Regions from separate parts of the Homo sapiens genome. Here region 1 is linked to region 2. Evidence: fine-mapped QTL for protein levels in blood plasma. Region 2 holds a variant in brackets. A gene starts in the other region. All regions are shown on their reverse strands.

Region 1 (2,914 bases), not on the chromosome of region 2:
GCTTTAGGAAGATAACTTTCCCGTAGAAGATGAATGGTGGGAAAAAGTAGAGATTGAGGAAAATATGTACGATGTATTTTTTACAAAAACATGTGCAGATATATAAATGCACACATGCATGTGAGCACACACGTAAGAACACACATCCTCCTACTGGCTAAGACCTGCCATAGTTTATTTTCCTTTGGAAACCTATTATTTCCCCATTCAAATTATTAAAATGGAGCCTGTATATATTTTTTTAAATTTTCAATCACCTATTGTCCCTCCAAAATTCTCACCCAGAGGGGGCGGTATTTATTTTCCCCACCTCCTTTCTGCTGCCACTTTGCCCATAGATACCTGTCCCTGGACATTAGAGAACAGTGAAATATCCAAAACTGGTGAAGTTACAAATTCCTTCAGAAATTCAATAAACATCAAAAGCCAAAGTTGCCATTGTAGGTGTGGGCGGCAATCAATTTTTCATTATTAATCTCCATACTTCTTATTTCAGACATTTTGGTAAATATCTTCTCTGTATGTGTTTACAGCTTCCTGGGAGAAGATCTTCAAAGCCTTCTGTTCTCTCAATGAGCAGTGGCTATCATGAAATCTCTTTTTCCCATGTGCCCACACTGTCTTCCTGATAGTTACAATGATTCCTTCCAAAAAAATAAATCAGTTCCCATTCTCCTCCAAGAAGCCAGCTTCTATACCCTTACCTGAAAATTAAACTAATCACCCACCAATACACTAAAAGAGTTCTATCTGGATATCTCACAGTACGTTTACAGTAGTCTAGAATTATAGTAACTTAGGCAGAAGCCCTATCTATCCTACCAGAGTAGCACCTTAAGAACAATATTTATGACTGCTTCATGTCTAAATCTTCCAATGCCTATCCAGTGCCCAACAAATTGTAGCCATTCAATAAATATCCATTGAGTGGATAAACAGATGAATGTAGCTATCTCAGGAGAACCAAGCTAGCAAATTGGATAACTGGAGATGATAGCAAGAATGACTCCATATAGTTCAAAAGCACAAAAGAAATTATAAAGTCAAATTTTAACTCAAAATTGAGGAAAATAAGAAAAACGAATGGTGACCAATATCCAGCAGTGAAATGTGCTTTGTTGACCCTCCGTGGAAGTTGGCTAACTTCCTATGTAGGATGTATTAGAATACTTATATTGGGCTAGAGCTTAGATGGTGGGGATCTGAAATACTTTCCAACATCACCATTTTCTGTGATTCCAAAACTTCTTCCAACCCTGCAAATATGTGCAATTATTATGTGTCAGTTAAAAGTAAAATAAAAAAAAATACAATTCCTACCACCATATTCCACTGTCAGTGAGGCAAGGCTTACTAGTTGTGCTCTTATTAACAGAAAAGTAAAGAAATGTCACATATTCCAGATGTATTCCAGTTACTTACCAGAGTAACTACAAAGGCTGATGGTCACCAGCAGGAAGATAGTTACCAGCTTCATGACAGTTATCTGGGATATTTTTCAGGAGTTTAAAAATCAGAAAAATCTAGCAAAATCCACCAAGCCAGTGGTTCCACTTGCCATACAAAGTGTGATGGCTGCTTTTGCACACACATATTTATATGCCCATTGAGGACCTGAATTCTAGTCCCTACCACTTGACTCACCCCACCAAAGAAAGGGATAAATGTTATGTTTTCTCACCAAACAATTTGGAGGGTTTTCCACTTCCCCGTGTGTTCCCATGAGAAACAAAGCTCTACAGTACAGCATTCTCAAGTACCTCTTGCATAAACCCTTGCACAGAAATAAAAGCAGAAGGCAAAGAGCCCAACGAATCCTTCTCCTGGAAGAACATTGAAAAGAAGTGAAGAATTTATATTTGGATTAGAAGGAGTGTTTTCCTCTGGTTTTCTACATTTTTCCCCAGTTTTCTAATCATTTAAAGTTTGGAGAATCACATTAGCTGATGAACTACCCAGTTGTGAAAGCAATCTGGAGGCCACTCTGGTATAATACAGAGTCAGCTTCATGACATTTAGTGCCACATTTCTCTGGAATTCACCTGCCCCCAGCCCACTCACACATCTACTATGGTAAGATTTTCACACCTCTGTTACCTTTTCCAGTGTCAGTTACTTTGAGTATGTTCAGAGCATGTCTTCTCTGAGCCTTTGGATAGAATAATAGGCTTAAGATCTAAAATCAGAGTGTCTTTTGAAAAACCTGGGATTCAATTTTCACTGTTTGTGTAATCTTGGATTTGACATTTTTAATCTAGGATATTGGTCCTCTCATCTAAAATGGGAACATAAATAACACAACCAACCATAAGGTGTGTAGCTTGGGGAAAAAATTGTTTTTGCAAGATTCTTTGGCAATCAAATCCGATAAAATCATTCAAAAATACGTAATTGTAAGGTACTGGCTACAGGAGTAGTAATTTGTTTCCAAGGCTGTCTTTCTGGATCCAGGGTTCAGCCACAGGACCTCAGGACAACTTCATTTGTGAGCAGAAGTCCTGGAGTTCTTTGGGGCATCGAGTGGGCCCGACATGCAAGGAAGAGGGTAAGAAAGAACCATGAAGGGGTGAAATAGAAAGCGGAGTCCATATGGGCACAGGACCAGCTCAGGGCTCCCCGGCCACGTGGTACTGCTGGCTCCAGCCATTCCCACCACCAAAGTGGAACCCAGAAAATTTTGAGAAAACACACCTTAAGATGTAAGGCCAGAGGTTGGGGCTTTATTTGTCCTCATCTGAGGGTGTGGTATTGTAATGAAGATCTAATAAAATTATGCAGACAGAGCATTCTGCTATGCCAAACCAAAATTAATATCTAATTTATGTCACATTTTACTAATTTTTATGTTACCATGTTGTAACTGTCATTTCTTTATCTTTCTGCTACTTTATAAACTACTTTATAAACTACATGA
Region 2 (2,914 bases):
CGTCCTCTGGGTGCCCCCCAACAGGGCAAGAGGCCAAGGAGGCTTGGTGTTGACCTTTGCTGTCTCAGACCAGCTGGGTGACGAGGGATTCTGCACACCCTCTCCTCTAACCACAGAACGGTGGGTGTAACACTCAACAGGTGTCCCAGAAAACTTCTTTTCCCAGAGCTCCAGAGAAAACATTTCTCTAGAAGAGGAACCTGAACTGGCAGGACCAGGAGCCCAAGCTTCCCAGGCTGGGCACAGATGCCCTCCCTGGTGGTTAATCTCCCATGCAGGGCCTGGGCGTAGCCCAGCTCTCCCCAACAGGGGCTCCACCCACCCCCACCCTGCCTTGACCGGGTCCCTGGGGGATGCAGGTCCTCAAAGAGGGCAAAGCTTACTGGCTGCCATGAAGCTGGGAAGGGGGAGGATGGGATGGCACTACCTTCCCCAGAATGCCAGCTTCCAGCTCACTCTCTTATTGGTGATTTCCACCCTGCTCTGCGCTCCTGACCTCACATCCCTGGATTGTCAGAACACAGCCTGCCCTGTGTCCAGACAGGAGGAGAGTGCACATCGAGGGCACTGGGAATGCTCTTCCAAACTCTCGTCCAGCTGTCTGCCCATATTTCCGCTAGAGTCTTCCTCTATATCAAGGGTCCCCATGTGGGGTGACCATGACTCCATTTCCAGTGGCCTGTGGCTGCAAGGCTCACGTGCTTGCAAGTGTGTGTGTGTGTGTGTATCTCTGTGTGTGTGTGTGTGTGTGTACAGAGAGACCTCTGACCTGGGTATCAGGCTACTCAGGTTTCTTGGCAGTCACCCCCAAGGCCCCAGTATCTCTGTGGGAGTCTAGGGAAGGGGGAAGCCTCTCTAAGGCCTTGCTGGTGGAAGCCTGGAAGAAAAGGAAATCTTTTCCTTCCTAGGCACAAATCAGAAGCTAGGTGAGAAAATGGAAAACTGCCTTCATTCCCATCCTACCCCTTACCTTTACCCTCCCCCAGGTTCCCAGCCCTAGCGAGCAGATGCAAGCCCCTGGGCAGATGGCTTGGGGGCAGGTTCTCAAGGTCTAAGAACCTGGGAATGGCCTGAGGCCTCCCTACGGCAGGCTCAGAGAAGTCCCCCCAGTACATGGACTAGTTTATATTTATTTATGTCAGTGTTTCCCAAATTTATTATCTCTAGGATGCTTTTTGATGTTTAGCACCTATTAGCCTAGGGCACTAGCTGCCACAGAACTCACAAGCAATCATTGTGCCAGAAAAATTTCCAACCTAGAAATGTCCTGTGTAGGGGATTCTCATTTCCCCACTTGGGGTCAAATGATCAAGGGCTTTGCATGCATACCTGCAGGGCTCTCACAGAATCAAAGTGCTTTTTTAAAGAGGTGTTTTTGGCTGTGCATCTGTAAAGCAGCTTTTGTGTTCCCTTATTCAACAAATATTTATTGAGCTCTTTTATTACCTTTCCCTTTGTTAAATAATTGCTTCCTATGTACTTTTCAGCTGGGTCCACAGGAAGCAAGCATTTCCCAGCAGGACCAATACATTCC[C/T]GAGCCTTGGGTCCTGGTCCCTTTACTTACTGTCCCCTTCACAAAGTTGGAGGAAAGTTCCAAATAAGTTGCCTTGGCCAAACACAGGGCCCAGCAAGACAAAGGCCCAGGCTGGTGAGAGTTGGGTGTGTGTGGGAAGGGAGGACAGACAGGCGGGAAAGCTGCAGGAGAAGGAGGATGGGGCTTAAGAGGCAGCCGAGGGAGCACCCTGTGATAGGAGGCCTGTGAGGAGGGAGGCAATCCTGCGGGGCATGGTGGGCCTGGCCATGACAGGAAACTCCACAGGGGCCCCGAAGGCTGATGGAGCTGGGTCCTAGCAAAGGCTGAGGGAGGAGAGGAGGGTGAATGGTTCTTTCTCTCTACTGGGCAGGGAGCTCCCAAGCTCAGTTCAGGTGTGAGCACCCTCCCGAGCAGAGGGCTAAGGAAGCAGAGGTGGTCAGGGAGGAACGGTGGAAGGGAAGGGTCCATGGGACATGACAGATACCAGTGGCTGCAGCGGCAGCAGGTGTTGAGGGTCCAAGCTGAGCCACACAGCAGCCACCAGCCTACAGAGGCTCCCAGAACCCCTTGCTGGTGACATCAGGCCTAAGCACCCTTTTACGTGGAATTGATAATGCCTGGCAGAGGTGGGCCTAACACAGTTCTCAAAAGATGAATCACCCAGGAACTGGTTGGAAATGCAGATTCCTGGGTACTACCTCAGACCTACTGAATTAGAAATCCAGGGGTGGGGCCCAGGCATCTGTGTTTTTCCAAGACCTCCAGGGGATTCCCGTGCACACTCAAGTTTAAAAACGACGAAACTGATGGAATCCCTGACATGACAACCCCTGCCCTAGCATCCTACCGAGGTCTGGGATCAGGGCAGGCTGAGGCCGTAAGGCTGGGCCTCTGAGAGCCAGACTGAGCAGAACTCAAGGCCACGGGAAGCTGGAGTAGTTTGCCTCTGTGAGTCACGCCCTCCCTGAAGGGAAACCCCACAGATGAAAGGAAGCTGTCCTGCTGGGTTTTGCAGCCTGGCTTCTTGGACCTGGATGGTGGAAGCAGTGCCTCATCCCCTCCACAGACCCACAGGCCCACAGCTGGCTGGGGCCTGGGGCAAAGCCGCACGCAGGGACATCCTTCCTAACTCCAGAAAATGGAATGCCTTATTCAAATGTCTGACAGTCCTACAGCACCTGCCACCATTCATTCATCTAACATTTGTCCCCTACCAACCATGCATCAATTAGTGTTAGACCCTGGATACACCACAGGTAATGAAGCAGTAGGGCCCCAGCTCTCATAGTGTAGTGTGGACTAGTGAAAAAAATGGTGCTGAGCTCTTTATTTATTTGTTTAGAGTCCGGGTCTCGCTCTGTCACCCAGGCTGGAGTGCAG

Alleles and levels. Positions count from the first base shown, and alleles are read on the strand shown. Strength reflects both the effect of a copy and how common the allele is.
With allele C in place of T in region 2, the plasma level of the protein whose gene starts at base 1,570 in region 1 is lower (moderate association).

Evidence for each region. PIP is the chance, under the fine-mapping model, that this variant and not a neighbour inherited with it causes the effect. Protein levels are from antibody-based Olink assays in UK Biobank. Linkage for the fine-mapping came from a reference panel and not from the study's own genotypes, which makes the PIPs less certain.
Region 1: SCGB3A2 starts here. The variant in region 2 is fine-mapped to the plasma level of the SCGB3A2 protein (UK Biobank, PIP above 0.99).

The regions. Positions count from the first base shown.
Region 1 is chr5:147,877,367-147,880,280 of GRCh38, reverse strand. It overlaps SCGB3A2 (secretoglobin family 3A member 2), which reads right to left and starts at 1,570. Exons shown (of 3, transcript NM_054023.5): 1 at 1,423-1,570. The coding sequence starts at 1,477.
Region 2 is chr1:117,573,178-117,576,091 of GRCh38, reverse strand. No RefSeq gene overlaps it. Among named protein-coding and RNA genes, the nearest start is that of TENT5C-DT, 31 kb to the left of the region's middle. The variant C/T (reference allele first, on the strand shown) is at 1,535.